Regions from separate parts of the Homo sapiens genome. Here regions 1 and 2 are each linked to region 3. The links come from fine-mapping of genetic effects on gene expression. A gene starts in region 3. Each other region holds a variant in brackets. All regions are shown on one strand. Distances are from middle to middle. Region 1 overlaps NF1 (neurofibromin 1). Region 2 has its middle 7.3 kb from the start of RAB11FIP4. Region 3 holds the start of EVI2A (ecotropic viral integration site 2A).

Region 1 (5,231 bases), 57 kb after region 3:
GATGCTCTGCTCTGATATACTGTGTACTCATCTGTCTTGGAGCTAGGCTTCACACCAGGTGAAAATGAAGGTCAGGAGGAGCTCCAGTAGGTCTAAGTAAGAAACTAAAAGGATTGAAAATCTGAAACTGACAGTGCCATATCCCCCAAAAAAAGAATGAAAGAAAAAAAGAAAATCTCAAATTTACTCCTTACACAACTTTATAGGTCACAAAACACTTTATAGGAGAGGTAGACAGTTTTTATAAGCACATACCCCAGCTTTAACATATGAAGCAACAGATTTGGAAAAATAAACTTATCTAAGATTATGCAGCTAAGGCCAGGTGCAGTGGCTCACACCTGTAATTCCCAGCACTTTGGGAGGCCGAGGCAGGCAGATCACCTGAGGTCAGGAGTTCAAGACCAGCCTGGCCAATATGGTGAAACCCCATCTCTACTAAAAATACAAAATCAGCCACGCATGGTTCTACATGTCTGCAATCCCAGCTACTCGGGAGGCTAAGACAGGAGAATCACTTGAAGCCAGGAGGTGGAGGTTGCAGTGAGCCGAGATCGCTCCATTGCACTCCAGCCTGGGTGACAAGAGTGAAACTCCATTTCAAAAAAAAAAAAAAGATTATGCAGCTAATAAGCAGCAGAGCTGAGAATTCTTAGCATTCTCAGGCCACAAGACTCAATAGGTTTCATGGAAACCAAACTGATTGAATCTCACTAAGGGATCTGCAGCAGGTCCAATCTTTCCTTTAGCTTTTTCTAGATCACCACAGAGAGGGAATACAAATATAACAGTTTCTGATTCCGAAAAAAAAAAACGCAGCTTTGTTTTCCAGAAATCTTTGCTATTTGTAAACTAATAAGATTTTAAAGAAGAGGGGGAAACACATCTTCTACCTCCCTTACCAATGTTTGCTTTTTACTTAGACAACAACGGAAAAGTAAAAATATCCTGGTTGTATTAAAGGTTGGGGTTAGAATACAAATATGGTTCATCTCAAACGCAAACGAAAATTAAAATGATCTTAGGCAATTTAGAAATGGCAACTGAGATGAGAGCTGGAGAGAGGCCTTTCATGGGAAGGTGAGCAGGGGTTACTTAGAGTTGTTAAAGGGCAGGGGGGTGGCGGGAGGTTCAATGCAATTTTCTTACTTTCTTGATTCCCTAATACTCCAGTCCTTTGGACTTCTTGGTCTTAAGGCTATCTGAATGACCCTATTAGACAAGTTTCCCATCTTCCACTGATCTTCCTTCACCGTCTCTCTACTATTTCTCAACCTTGATTTGTTTCCTACACACTGCCACCTGTGGCCAGCAAGCTGACTAACAATGTAAGTCTACTAACTTAATGGTCATGGATGTTAAATACTGTTAAATTCAGGAAACTGGTAAAGATTAAGTCTATAACTAATGAGTAGCAGAACTAGGTCTAAACATGGTCCTTGAGATTCCAAAGTCAGTGGTTTCTCTATGTATCATGTTGTCTCTAAGGCTCAATTACCATGAATGTATGTCATGGTAAATGGGAAAAAGTAAAACTGACCAAATAACGTCACAGATTGAGTTTTCAAAAGGAAGGTAAAATGAAGCAAAAAAGAAAAGACAATGGTAGGGAAAGCAAGGCAAGCATCATACCTATTATTAAGGAAGAGCTCACAACATTTCCAGAAAGGCTTTCTAGGAACTAGCCTCAACTGAGGGCAGCATGAACAAGCACCGTTTTCCAGGCCACCCCTTGCACCATCTTCATAGAGATTTTTCACCACTCCTTTGAATTATTTTTTAAATCATCCTGATGCTGTCTTACACAGCATATTTTTAAAAGTTCTCAGAAATAGGCTCTTATAGTTTTATTTCTTCCTTTAAAAAAAGTTCCCAGTTATCATGTTGTGAGTACTATTTAATCAGAATATACTTGAAAACAAAAGATTCTTTGTGGGTTTTTAACTCTTGGTAATTAATCCATTGCAGGCAGTATTTTAAAAAATGATGTAGGACAGAGTAAGCAATATGAAATGGGTAGTATGAAAAGCAGCTACTAGATACCGACCATCATTTTAGGAAACGCAGGCTATTTACCCTGCTATATGCTCCCAAGTAAACTTGTCTTCAATTCCTGTTAAGTCAACTGGGAAAAACCAAACTTGCCATCTCTCTATATTTGCTATAATTTAAAAAATTCTGTTAAGAGACCCAAAACATAGTATTTCTTACCTCCGTGCAACATAATAAAAAATAGGATTCCCAGCTTTGGAAGTCCCAGCTTGGTAGAAAATACTTAACGTTTTCAAAGCCTTGAATTCTTCTTTTTCATGTACCTGATGCCTAAAAGAAAAATAACAGAGTAATTATGAGGCTTTATGTTGTCTACTGAGTATGTAAAAAAGTCTATAATTGGATAAACAATAAAATACTAAAATGAAAAAATATTTTAAAAGCAACAGGCATTCTAAAGGGTAATTTGGCAACATGCACCAAAAATTTCAAGGTATTACTCTTTGAACCACAAAAGCACTTTTAGGACTATTCTAAGAGAACTACTGGGCAAGAATATTAACCATAGGATTGGTTTTACTCATGACATTTTTGTCCCAGACAGAAGTTTATGATTTTTTAAATAATTCATTTTATCAATCTTTTCTAGTTTATGGATTTTGAATGGATGAAAAAGGCCTTGCTTTGCTCATTTTTTTTGATTTATGGAAGTTTATCATAAATGGTATGAAAATATTTTTCCAAATCATTACTCAGTTTTATCAAAACCATTTATTGAAAGTCCATCCTAATCTCGATTCTGAATACCAGCTTTAGCATATATTATGTTCCCATATGTATTAAAGCCTGGTTTAATTTTTATATAGTTTGCTCAAGACTCAGTGTGCTTCTTCAACCTCAAGATTCATGTCATTCATCAACTCTAGAAAACATACATCCATTAGCCTTTCAAATATTACTTCTTCCCATTCTCACTGAGCTCAGTTTCTAGGGAACACCTACTAGACATATTTTGAACCTCCTCATTTTATCTTCTGCATCTCCTAACCTCTTTCATATTTTCCATTTATCTGTCTATACTGACTGTATGCTAGGTAATTTGCTTAGAAACTAGCTTCAGCTATAAATTTAATTTTTTTTTTTTTTT[G/TG]AGATGGAGTTTTGCTCTTGTTGACCAGGCTGGAGTGCAGTGGCACGATCTCGGCTCACTGCAACCTCTGCCTCCCGGGTTCAAATGATTCTCCTGCCTTGGCCTCCCAAGTAGCTGGGATTACAAGTGCCCACCACCACACCTGGCTAATTCATATATATATATTTATTTATTTAGTAGAGATGGGGTTTCGCCATGCTGGCCAGGCTTGCCTCGAACTCCTGACCTCAGGTGATCTACCCACCTCGGCCTCCCAAAATGCTGGGATTACAGGCGTGAGTCACCGCACTCGGCCTAAATTTTTTTAAGTACACATATTTTCTTTTACACCTAGTATTTCTATGAGCCTTATGTCTTGGGAAGAGATTGCATTAGCTCAGCCCATCATGCTGCTGGTACCAGGTCAGAATTTTAAAAATATTAATGGAAACAACCTAGATATCATTTGATAGGAGAAACAAATGTACATGTGCATAGATAAATGACTGGGAGACTATTCACCAAACGTTAAGTGAAGTATTCTGAGAGGGAGGATAAACAATTTTTAATTTTTTTAACTTTCTTTAGATTTCTATATCAAGTAATTTAATAATTTTTTAAATAACTGAGAATATTATAAAGCTACCTTCATTTTTTTTAAAAAAAAGAAAATGGGTCTCCAAGAGCATCAGTGGGAATTTAGAACAAAAATAAGATCCAACATTTATTAATTACTTTACAAGTACCAGATACTATGCTAAGTATATTATATATATTGGATTACTTAATCTTCAAAAGCACAAAAGATTGCTTTGTAAGGGAAGGTAGGATCTCAGAAAAAAGGAATAATAAAAATATTTTTCTAGAAAAATGGCTAGGATGTCCTCAGTGATGTCAAATTTAAAAACTGTTTTGATTCATTCATTTTTATATTTATATTTATTTATATTTATATTTACTTATATTTCTTTTTACTTATTTATATTTTTACTTATTTCTTTATTTATAGACAAGGTCTCATTCTGTCACCTAGGCTGGAAATGCACTGGTGCAATCACAGTTCACTGCATCCTCAAGCAATCCTCCCACCTCAGCCTCCCAGGTAGCTGGGACCACAGGTGCGTACCATCACACCTGGTTAATATTTTATTATTTGTAGAGATGGAGTCCTGCTATGTTGCCCAGGGTGGTCTCAAACTCCTGGGCTCAAGCAATCCTCCTGCCTTGGCCTCCCAAAATGCTGGGATTACAGGCATGAGCCACTGTGCCCAATCTATCTATCTTATCTATCTTATCTTATCTTATCTTATCTATCTATCTATCTACCTACCTACCTACCTACCTACCTACCTACCTATCTATCTACCTACCTACCTACCTACCTACCTACCTACCTATCTATCTATCTATCTAATAAAGACAAGGTCTCACTATGTTGCCCAGGCTGGTCTTGAACTCCTGGCCTCCAGCAATTCTCTCACCTTGGCCTCTCAAAATGTTGGGGTTATAGGTATTAGCCACCATGTCTGGCCTAAAAATAGTATTATATTTTTGTAGTATATAATTTTCAATTAGGTAATGTGAATAGTCTGTATGGAAAATATGCCCTTAATTACATAGGAATAAACATTTGTTACACTAAAAAAAATCTAGTAGAGCTAAAAATAAAAATTAATTTGGAAAGGACACTATATACCCATACATTCTTATGTTTATACATTCTTTCATATATTCATATATTCTTTTAACAGTATCAATGGTTTGGAGTTATATGTACAAAACCATGACCTGTAAGTAATACAACTAACAACAGGCACTTACAATTCAAGGCATATTATATACAAATCTTTAACTTCTCATCATCAGATTCTGTTTTATTCTGTTTTGGAACATACTATGAACATAGCACTCAAATCACAGACACGAAGGAGCACTTACTAAGCATAAAGTCCTGTGAAAGGTACTTTAAAAGATTCAGCAAACTACTCTCACTGTATCATCACAGAGTAAGTGTCTAACAATGAGGATCTTTTCATTCACAAACTAAATCCCACTAAATGGGATTCAAACAAATGTCCACAGAAATTTTATAGCAATACTGAAGTATACTATA
Region 2 (5,231 bases), 63 kb before region 3:
CCTCCAGAACTGTTACAGAATAAATTTCTGGTGTTTTAAGCCACCAAGTTTGTGGGAGCTAGCACAGCAGCCATGAGAAATGAATACAGATGGGATGAATATCATGTGGAAGTTATCAAAGATTATGAAGAGCCAGGCTTTGGAATTCAAAACAGCTGAGCTGGGCACCAACATCTGTTGCTCTTTTAGCCCCATGACTCTGGTCAGGTTAATTTCTCTAAGCTTCAGTTTTTCTACCTTGTAGAGGTCCTTCAGGCTTTTAATTTAAAAAAGATTGCGTCATGCCTCGCCCAGCGCTTGGCACAGTACCTGGCACCTGGGTGGTGATTATGTGTGTCAGTATGGAGCAGTTTAGAACCAGTCTAAAAGGGGGAACATTTCTGTATTTTCATCTGTGAGCCTTGACTTCATTGTCCATGTTGTCTGGAAATGGGGCAGGATTCAGTTACTTCCTGTTCACAACCTGCTGGGTTTTTTTAAACCCATGAATAATTATCACTTTGAAGGGGAAGAAGGTGCCGTGAACTTATTTTCCTTCTTCACTGATCCCAGAATATGTTTCTGTGAGCAAAAGCAGAGAGGCCCCTGCTTGGAGACACAGCCAGCCCTGCCTGTGGAGTGCTGAGGACCCTGGCTGGACTAGGGCACACTTGGGGTGCAGGGGGGCACCTTGAGACCTCATCTTTCCTCTGCTGCATGAGCTGTTGATGTGAGGGGTATCCAGAATCTTCTCTGACCCTTAGAAGCAGGACCGGCTGATTGCTAAAATTCCTTCCGGGATTCTAAGAAGAAATGCCAAAACCTAACTTATTCTACCCAACTGGGCTCCAGATCCTTCTGTCAGCTGCAGAAATGGCCCCTGAAACTAACTTCCAGGCAGGGCACCAATATTTCCCTCCTGGCTTAGGAAGCAGTGTCCTTGGTGAGTCAAATCCACTCACATTCCCTGGCTTTGAGCCTTCTCTACTGCCCACTTCTGCCTAAAAGAAAAACTCAATCCTCAGGGTGAGCGGCAAGCAGGAAGGCCCTTTACAGCCTGATGCTCTCCATTCTGTAAAACATGGCTGGGCAGTAACATCATCTACTATACTCAGTTTACATTTATTGAGCACTTACTATATCCCAGGCATTGTGTGGCATAGACTCCAAGACAGTGACTCAACATGGAATTGATCAGTGAAATGCCTGGCTTGCCTTGCATATGCTGTTCCCTCTGCCTGGATTGTCCTCCCTCCACCACCCCCACTGCCATCCTTCAAATGCCACCCCCTCCAAGAAGCCTTCCCTGAGTCAGCTGCCCTTACTGCTCTGCCCTCACAGAACTTTGCAGACTCTACAGTGTGTTCGTGATGCACACACAGGGATGCTCTGCCCATCAGCTGTCTCCCCTGGCCAGGGCGCCCAGATGTCTTCTCAGGGATGATGGGATCATTCCAAGATTAGGAAAACAGACACAGGGTCAAGAGCCGAGAGTTAAGAGGCAGGTGAAGGAAGTGCTGTCAGAGCCATAGGAGGAGCGGGAACAGGTGCCTGGAAGCCAAAAGAGGTGAGGAAAATGACTGAATTATAGTTAAATGTGCACATCCTTCACCATGTATTTCTTTTTTTTTTGAGATGGAGTCTCACTCTCGTTGCCTAGGCTGCAGTGCAATGGCGTGACCTCAGCTCACTGCAACCTCTGCAGTGTTCAAGCGATTCTCCTGCCTCAGCCTCCCGAGTAGCTGGGATTACAAGGTGCCTGTCACCATGCCTGGCTTTTTTTTTTTTTTTTTTTTTTTTTTTTTAGATGGAGTTTCGCTCTTGTTGCCCAGGCGGGAGTGCAATGGTGCGATCTCAGCTCACTGCAACCTCTGTCTCCCAGGTTCAAAGCGATTCTTGTGCCTTAGCCTCCCAAATAGCTGGGATTACAGGCACATGCCACCATCCCTGGCTAATTTTGTACTTTTAGTAGAGACAGGGTTTCTCCGTGTTGGTCAGGCTGGTCCCGAACTCCCGACCTCAGGTGATCCACTCGCCTCGGCCTACCAAAGTGTTGGGATTACAGGCGTGAGCCACCACGCCCGGCTACTAATTTTTTGTATTTGCAGTAGAGATGGGGTTTCACCATGTTGGCCAGGCTGGTCTTGAACTCTTGACCTCAGGTGATCCACCTGCCTCAGCTTCCCAAAATGCTGGGATTACAGGCATAAGCCACAGTGCCTGGCCGCCTACGAGCTTCTTGAGAGCAAGGACCATTCCCCATCAACCTTGTTAACCTTGAAAGGTTGCAAGCTGTTGAGTAGAAGTTATAAAATAACAGTGAAGGTTTAGGGTTGGCCTACGGAGTTGACAGCAGTTCACCTGCACCACTCTAAACTAGTTATGCTGATACTCCCCTAAGGAAGGAAAACAAACCCAGCTCCCTGTAATCCGAATTAGTAAAGAGCTACCTTTTGATAAAAGGAAAAAGATAAAGGTAAAAACATCCAAGAGGTGGTAGTTAATGTAATACCTAAACTCTGCTATCATAAACATCCTTTTTAGTACAACTAAAAGTAAGCATTATCCTCATCTCTTAAAACCCTTTTTGTTTTCAAAGCAATAATCATTGTAAAATGCTTAGAAGATAGACACAAAAAGGAGTAAGTGAGCCATACATATTGTTAACATTCAATACATTTCCTTTTCTTTATCCTATGCAAAAACTATACACATATATTTGTATTTATATAATTGGGAATTAGCCCTCTTATGTGGTTTTAAAACTCTTGATTTTATTGGAAGTTCCCTCCCAAAATTTAAATATTATTAGGCCATTTTTAAAGGCTGCATAAGGAAGTGGTCAGCTTCCAGAAAGTGCTGGATGAATGTAGATAATTTAACCAATATTTTGGTTGTCTTCAGGTTTTCTGATATTATAATACTTTGATGAAAGTCTTCACTCTTTTACCATTTGTTTCTCCAGAATAGATTCCTAGATAATTACTAGGGCGAATGGTATGGACTTTTTTTTTTTTTTTTTTTTTTGAGACGGAGTTTCGCTCTTGTTGCCCAGACTGGAGTGCAATGGCGCAATCTCAGCTCACCACAGCCTCCGCCTCCCGGGTTCAAGTGATTCTTCTGCCTCAGCCTCCTGAGTAGCTGGGATTAACAGGCATGCACCACCACGCCCGGCTAATTTTGTATTTTTAGTAGAGACGGGGGTTTCTCCATGTTGGTCAGGCTGGTCTCAAACTCACGACCTCAGCTGATCCACCTGCCTCAGCCTCCTGAAGTGCTAGG[A/C]TTACAGGCATAAGCCACCACGCCCAGCCAGTATGGACATTTTTAAGGCTGGTAATACAGAGAGATGAGGCCATCTGCAGGAAGAACTCATCGCACCACATTCTTGACCTGCACCAAGTATTAGTTAAGTGTCTTTGCTAATGTGACAAGTGAAAATATGTATCAGGTATCCCATTGTTTCAGTTTGTATTTCTTTTTGTTTACTAATGAGTGTGATGACCTTTTCCATCATAAACAGGAGTTGGTACAATATTTCTGTGGATTGGCCATTCATGTTCTTTGCCCATTTTTCTTTCTGCTTAGGTTTTTTCTTTAGATGAGTTTTTATGAACTCTTTATAATTCCCTATTGGTTGGCCTTTTAATTTTGTGTGTGATTTTTTTGGACATGGGGACATTTTAATGTTAGGCAGTCAATGCGGGACCCTTAGGATTTCTGCTTTTAAGCTTACACTGCTTTTTTTTTTTTTTTTTGAGACGGAGTCCTGCTCTGTCACCCAGGCTGGAATGCAATGGCACAATCTCAGCTCGCTGCAACCTCCGCCTCCCGGGTTCAAGCAATTCTCCTATCTCAGCCTCCTGAGCAGCTGGGATTACAGGCACATGCCGCCACGCCCGAGAACGTATTGTATTTTGGTAGAGAGGCCCATGTTGCCCAGGCTGGTCTTGAACTCCTGAGCTCAGGCAATCCACCCGCCTCGGCCTCCTGAAGTGCTAGGATTACAGGCGTGAGCCACTGCACTTACACTGCTTTTAAGCTTACAAAGTCCTTCCCTATTGTAGGAGTCATTAATGTTCTTGGCCAATGTTTCCAGCTCTTTCCCTTTTGAACAGAGGAAGATAGTGATTTTTGACCCTTGTGACTTTGTGAAGCTGTGTGTCAAGTTCTGGCAATGACTGTGAAAAGTGACTGTGTATCTGTCCTCAAGCCTTTAATTGCTGATGCAAGAGCTTCCAGATGCTGCTCTGTCCAATCTAGCAGCCAGTAGCCACATGTAACTATTTACATTTATTTAATATAAAAGTTTAGTTTCCCATTCTCACTAACCACATTTCAAGTGTTCAATGGCCACATGTGGCTAGTGGCCACTGTCCTGGACAGTGCAGATATGGAACTGGTAATACAGAAAGATGAGGCCAAGTGCAGGAAGAACTCATTGCACCACATTCTGGACTGGCACCAATATTAGTTAAGTACGTCTTTGCTAATGTGACAAATGAAAATGGGACCCCTCTGTTTCAGCTTCCAGCAGAACATTTCCATCATCACAGCGGCTGGACATTACAGCCTGAGCTCCTTCCCTCTGGCATGATGGCTAGCCATTTGTAGATCAAATGAGTGAGTGATCAGAGATGGCTGATCACTCACTCTGGAGTCCCAAGACATCAGGGTGAGCAGAGCCTCCTGATAACGGGTGATGGACATGTAGCAGAGGTGAGAAATAAGCTTTTGTGGCTTTGAAGCCAATACACTTTGGGAGTTACTCATGCTTGTCTTTTTAAATAAAAAAATCAAAGCATAATCTGGACCTTCTAGCCTGTTCCACTTTATATTTACTCTAATTACCATTAGTATTTAAGCATTTAAAAATTTGTTTTACTACCTAATAAGGAAGTTTTCGACAACCCGTTGTTAGCCATGCTTTCCTGTTTATTCCACAAGGTGAAGAATATTTTCCAAAGATCATTTTGTCTGGATACACTCTCTTCTTGTTGGCATCTTGATCAGAATTGTATTAAGCCAGTTCATTTATTTGGGAAGATCTGGCATTCAACGATATTCAGCTTTCCAACCCAGGACTGTGGTCTGTCTCTCCATTTGCTGGAGTCTCCTTTAAGCCCAGCTTCCTCACATGCCTGCGTGCTGAGCAGTGCTGTGTGGAGAAAAATAAGCAGCAATGAGAGAAAACTGAGGACAACATAGTGACTTTTATAAAGCAAAACTAATTTCTTTTAAAGAACTGTACTTTA
Region 3 (5,230 bases):
GTGCCACTGCACTCCAGCCTGGGCGATAGAGCGAGATTCCAACAAAAACAAAAACAAAAAAAACCAAAAAAATCACACATACTCCATTAATATGTACAAATTATCATGTATCAATAAAAAACTTCACCTCAGAATTTTTAATCTTGTTGGGAGAAAATAAGATAAAAATATGACAAGTCAAATGATTTTAAAACAACACAAATATTTCAAGATAGAAGATATGAGGTAGAAAGTAATCACTTATCAAAGGAAATGCAGAGAAAATACTGTTATTAAGACAAAGGAGAGAGAGAGAGAGATTAACACAAACTGGGCAGTCAGTGAAAGCTACATAGAAGATACAGTGGCTGAATCAGGTAAGGAGGAATGCAGACTCAGCAAGAGGACTGGGCAGGCCTTATGGAGAAAGGCAAAAAGGAAAAGAAACAGGTAACTAGATGTGTTGAAGAGACAGCTAGTCTAGCCAGAATGGAGGATTCAGGTAGAGAAGTTTTGAGAGATAAAGCTGGGAAAATACAGAATAGTCAAATTGTGGAGAGACCATAACTGCCCAACCAAAGGGCTTAGGTTTTCTACTAGGGGCTCACCATTTCTCAGCATATGTTCTGTGGACTACTGGCGTCAGAATCAACTGTGGTGCTTGATAAAAATGCAGTTTCCTGGTCCCAACCTGGACCTACTAAATATGGATCTATGTAGTGGGGCCTGGAAATTTTTATCTTTTTTTTTTTTCCCTTAACTCAGGCTGGACTGCAGTGGCACGGTCACAGCTCACTGTAGCCTTGACCTCCCCAGGCTCAGGTGATCCTCCCACCTCAGCCTCCTGAGTAGCTGGGACTACAGATAAGCGCCACCATGCCCGGCTAGTTTTTTGTTTTTGTTTTTTTGTATTTTTTGTAGAGACAGGATTTTGCCATGCTGCCCAGGCTGGTCTCGAATTTCTGTGGCTCAAGTAATCCTCCCGCCTCAGCCTCCCAAAGTGCTGAGATTACAGGTGTGAGCCACCATGTCCTGCTTTTATAATTTTTAAACAATCTTCTCATCTGATGTTTATGTACACAAACATTTCTGAATCATTGTTGTATGTATTAGGGAACTGTTCAACCGGTTTTATTTTCCCTTAAAGAAAGGGTGGTATGACCAAAGACAGTGATGTATACAAGATATAAGAAGGATTCAGGGCTACCGAAAAGGCACTGTAGAGTCTAGGTATGACCTGATAAGGATCTAAAATAGTACTGTTGACAGTAAAAACAGGGAAAAAGAAACTGATCCAACAATATGAAGGAAGGACCAACATGATTCAAAGTCTGATCAGGACTGAGAGGACTTAAATTAAAATGATGTGTTGTATACTAAGCCTCTGATATTAGAATGTTGCTATCATGAACAGAAACAAGAAGACTGTCACAGGCAGCCTCCTTTAAAGAAAAAATAAAGTTCTTTTTATTTCATTAATTTAATTAATTTTTAAGAGATGGAGTCTTGCTATGTTACCCAGGCTGGATTTGAACTCCTGGGCTCCACCAGTGATCCTCCTACCTCAACCTACCTAGTAGCTGGGATTACAGATATGTGCTGCCATATCCAGTTCTTTTTTTTTTTTTTTTTTTTTTTTTTTTTTTTTTTGAGACAGAGTCTTACTCTGTCTTCCTGGCTGGAGTGCAGTGGCATGATCTTAGCTCATGCAGCCAAGATCTCATGATCTCTGCAGCCTCCACGTCCCGGGTTCAAGCTATTCTCCTGTCTCAGCCTCCCAAGTAGGTGGGACTACAGGTGCATGCTACCCTGCCTGGTTAATTTTTATATTTTTAGTAGAGACAGGTTTTCTCTATGTTGGCCAGGCTGGTCTTGAACTCCTGGCCTCAAGTGATCTGCCTGCGTCAACCCTCCCAACGTGCTGGGATTACAGGTGTGAGCCACCGTGTTCAGCCCATACCTAGTTCTTAAAGTCTGTTTCAGTCATGTTAAACTTGAGGTGATGACAGGATGTTTGACAGTTGTGTGTGTGTGTGTGTGTGTGTGTGTGTGTGTGTATACACACACTACACCACACGAAAGCATTTTCTGTCCCATATAATCTAAGTTTACTAGATATTTTCTCAAATAATTGCTGCAGTTCCACAATTGTTACATTATCTGATCAGTATCCCATGGACTCCAAACTCACATTTTCAAATCAGTCTGTAGATTTCAAATAAGTCTTTTAGAGAAGATTTGAAATGGAAGATACCATTTCAAAACCTCTTTTGAATGACACTAAAGCATGTAGCAGGCCTATAGAATGAGCATACTGTCAAAAGGCATTAAGTGGAAAACCCTCCCTGCTCTGGAGGCGGGGATTGGTTCTACAAAGCCTCCTGTCATGCCAGTGGCCAACTAGAGAAGTTGGAGCTTTTTCGTTGTTTTTTTTTTTTTCCCTCCTGTGACATGTGCTTTAGTTGCAGTGGAAAGGAAATGTGTCATCTGTGGTTTGGTTTTAAAAGTGGAAAACTAGCTGCACATATCCTTTTTTACTGCAGATTTACTTTAAGGCTCATATTCTCCAAGTCTATTCTGCTTTAAAAAGAAGACAAGAAAAGAAGTGGTTTATCAAAATCACGTTATAATCAGATTTTGACCAAGCATTTTGTAAGGTAGGTCATATATATACGGCTTTTCTTATGCCTTTTCACTTCTAACGTCTGACAGATTAGTGTTCGAGGAAATGCTATCAAAGTGTGTAAGAATCTCACTAACAAACTAGAATTGTGACTGAAAATGTATACTTTTTTTTTCTGTCCTGTTACATAAATTTTAAGTTAGAAATGAAAAAATTTGCCATCGCCATGGAGTTTTAAATTAGGATTACGAAGGATCTAAGTTTGGTTTCCTCAAGTAAACTGGAAATGTTTTGTTATTTTTCAAAAGTTAAAAAATAAATTTCTCATTACTAATGCTTGGACATTACAAATTCTACTGAAAATAAATTCTACTGAAAATGATCAGATATAAGAAAACTTCTGATAACACAACCTGGCCTCCAAGGCATAAACTGGAGTAAAAACAGTCCTCAATTCTCAGGCATTTGTAAGGGCAAGAGAAAGTCTCATTTTGTCATACAGTTTGTTTATTTGGGCACTGCAGTACATCTGGCTGAAGACAATCAACAGCAGGCCTATTATCTGTTCCGTGGTAAGCACTGTTAAAATGTGTACCAATACTATGATGTATACTACACTGTTAATGAACTAATGTGAAAAGAATAATCTACTTTAAATCATTCTAGCATCTAATACAGAAGTCCAGTCTAGTATAAAAAGATGGAAATTACTTGCTAATCCAATTTCAAGTATTTCTTTTTGTGGAAGAATCATGAAATATCCAAAGATTTATGTCACTAAACTTAAAAATTAAAGCTGAACACTATTATACAAAAGCCAGTGACTTGGGCCTTTAATTGTCTACTAAAGGTCATAATCTAAAAAGTAATCTTAATCCTGGAATATTTAATAGTTTTTCCTCCCTACTATTAATATGAAATATAGTCTCCAGTTAGCATTGTTTATTACATGCTACTTTTGTTTGCATAACTCAACGTATCACATTTCTTATTTTCAATTTCTGTATTTTAATAGTATACAAATGTCAGCCAATGACATATAACAACCATTTCTTATAAAACCTTGATGTTCAAAAGCCTGACTAGCAGTGGCATCCATGTTGCTTAGGAGTTGGTTTGGAAACAAAGACTTTCAGGCCCTACCTATACTAGCTAGGTAAGAATCTGCCTTTTTTTTTTTTTTTTAAATAAAAGGACTCCTAAGTACATTTGAGAAGAATTTCTATAGCATACGTAGGGTTCTTAACCAGGCAATTTCATTTAGTAAATCTCAGGAGAACAATATAGTTTTGCTTTTAGTTCATTCAAATAAATGCTAACAATAAAATACTCCTTTCAAAAGTAGCTCAAGACAAACTGGTATATTATTATAAGATACCTTAATAATGATTATAAATCTTTCCTGCTGGGTTAGCAGTACATGGAACTGTTAAATTCTAAGATATGCCATTTCTATTTAAATCAATCATTTGGTAGATTTAAAAAATGTATAATATAACTTGTCTCCTTTTTGTACTAGTTTCCAGCAAGCTCAGGGCCAAAGCGGAAATTCAACATTTTCAATTATCTGTTGAGATGCTTATAACCTGCCACTTCATCCCAAATCATCAAGATCCTGATGCTCTATTTCTATTTTATTACACATTTTTTTTTACAATTATGTCAAAATCAGAAAAAATGCTAGGTATAAATGATGCTTTAAAAGAAAACCCAGCAACTTTTGTTGAACTTTTAAGTCTACTCAGAGGAAATTTGCTGTTTTTTTTTTTTTTTCTTCAGATTTTTAGGTTGAGAAAACTGGTATGCCTTTGCCTTCAGAAAGACACAGTCAGTCCAGGGAAATATAAATGAAAAGAGACAACCACCACAGTAAAATTGCGTTCACAAATACACTTACAAATGTATTTCTAAGTACCAGCTTTATTCTAAGCTTCAAGATGAACACCCAAGAAAAAAAAAGAACACCTTGAATTTCTATTTGAAGTTCAGTTTCTTTTGGTTGCTACCAAACTTCCCCTCTTTCCACCAAAAAAATTTGCATTTATTTCATACATGAAGCAAGAAGCTCAAGGCCACATTTCTTCTGTAAAGATTGGTGACAGGTTAGAGGGTGGGTAGTTTCTGTAAGAATGATCCTTAATTTTTTTTTTTTTTTAAAGAAGGAATCAGAAAAGTAAAAGCAGAACTAACTGACTCAAAGCAGAAGTCTAGCACGCTTCAAAGGAAGAAAACTATATAAAGCCATGATAGTCCACTTAAAATGATTAATATTTATTTGTAATGCTAACTTCTAGCATCTAAAAGTGTTAATAGAAATTAAAATGCTTCTTCATACATAGCTGAATAGAAAAGAAATTTAGTTGAGAAGGAATTCAGGGTAGCGAATATTAGGCATAAGCTTGTAGTTTACTTGTAACATCTCAACACTATCTTTTAACTACAATTACCAAAACTAGGATCCATTATTCTTTCACAAACTAACAAATTATATTGCTATCCCAACAGATTGCCAAGCATGCCCACGGACATGGAACACACAGGACATTACCTACATCTTGCCTTTCTGATGACAACAGTTTTTTCTTTGTCTCCTGGAACAAAAGCAAACTATACCCGTCTGTGGGCTAA

What was found. PIP is the estimated chance that this variant, and not a neighbour inherited with it, causes the effect.
Region 1: its variant is the best candidate, but not a certain one, in a credible set for the expression of EVI2A in monocytes (Fairfax 2014, PIP 0.85).
Region 2: its variant is the best candidate, but not a certain one, in a credible set for the expression of EVI2A in whole blood (INTERVAL, PIP 0.54).

Annotation. Positions count from the first base shown.
Region 1 is chr17:31,262,320-31,267,550 of GRCh38, reverse strand. NF1 (neurofibromin 1) reads right to left here. Exons shown (of 58, transcript NM_001042492.3): 36 at 2,212-2,322. Among named protein-coding and RNA genes, the nearest start is that of OMG, 32 kb to the left of the region's middle. The variant G/TG (reference allele first, on the strand shown) is at 3,140.
Region 2 is chr17:31,381,776-31,387,006 of GRCh38, reverse strand. No RefSeq gene overlaps it. Among named protein-coding and RNA genes, the nearest start is that of RAB11FIP4, 7.3 kb to the left of the region's middle. The variant A/C (reference allele first, on the strand shown) is at 3,262.
Region 3 is chr17:31,318,901-31,324,130 of GRCh38, reverse strand. It overlaps EVI2A (ecotropic viral integration site 2A), which reads left to right and starts at 2,509. Exons shown (of 2, transcript NM_014210.4): 1 at 2,509-2,636; 2 at 5,108-5,230. The coding sequence starts at 5,118. The region is part of intron 36 of NF1 (neurofibromin 1); the gene reads right to left.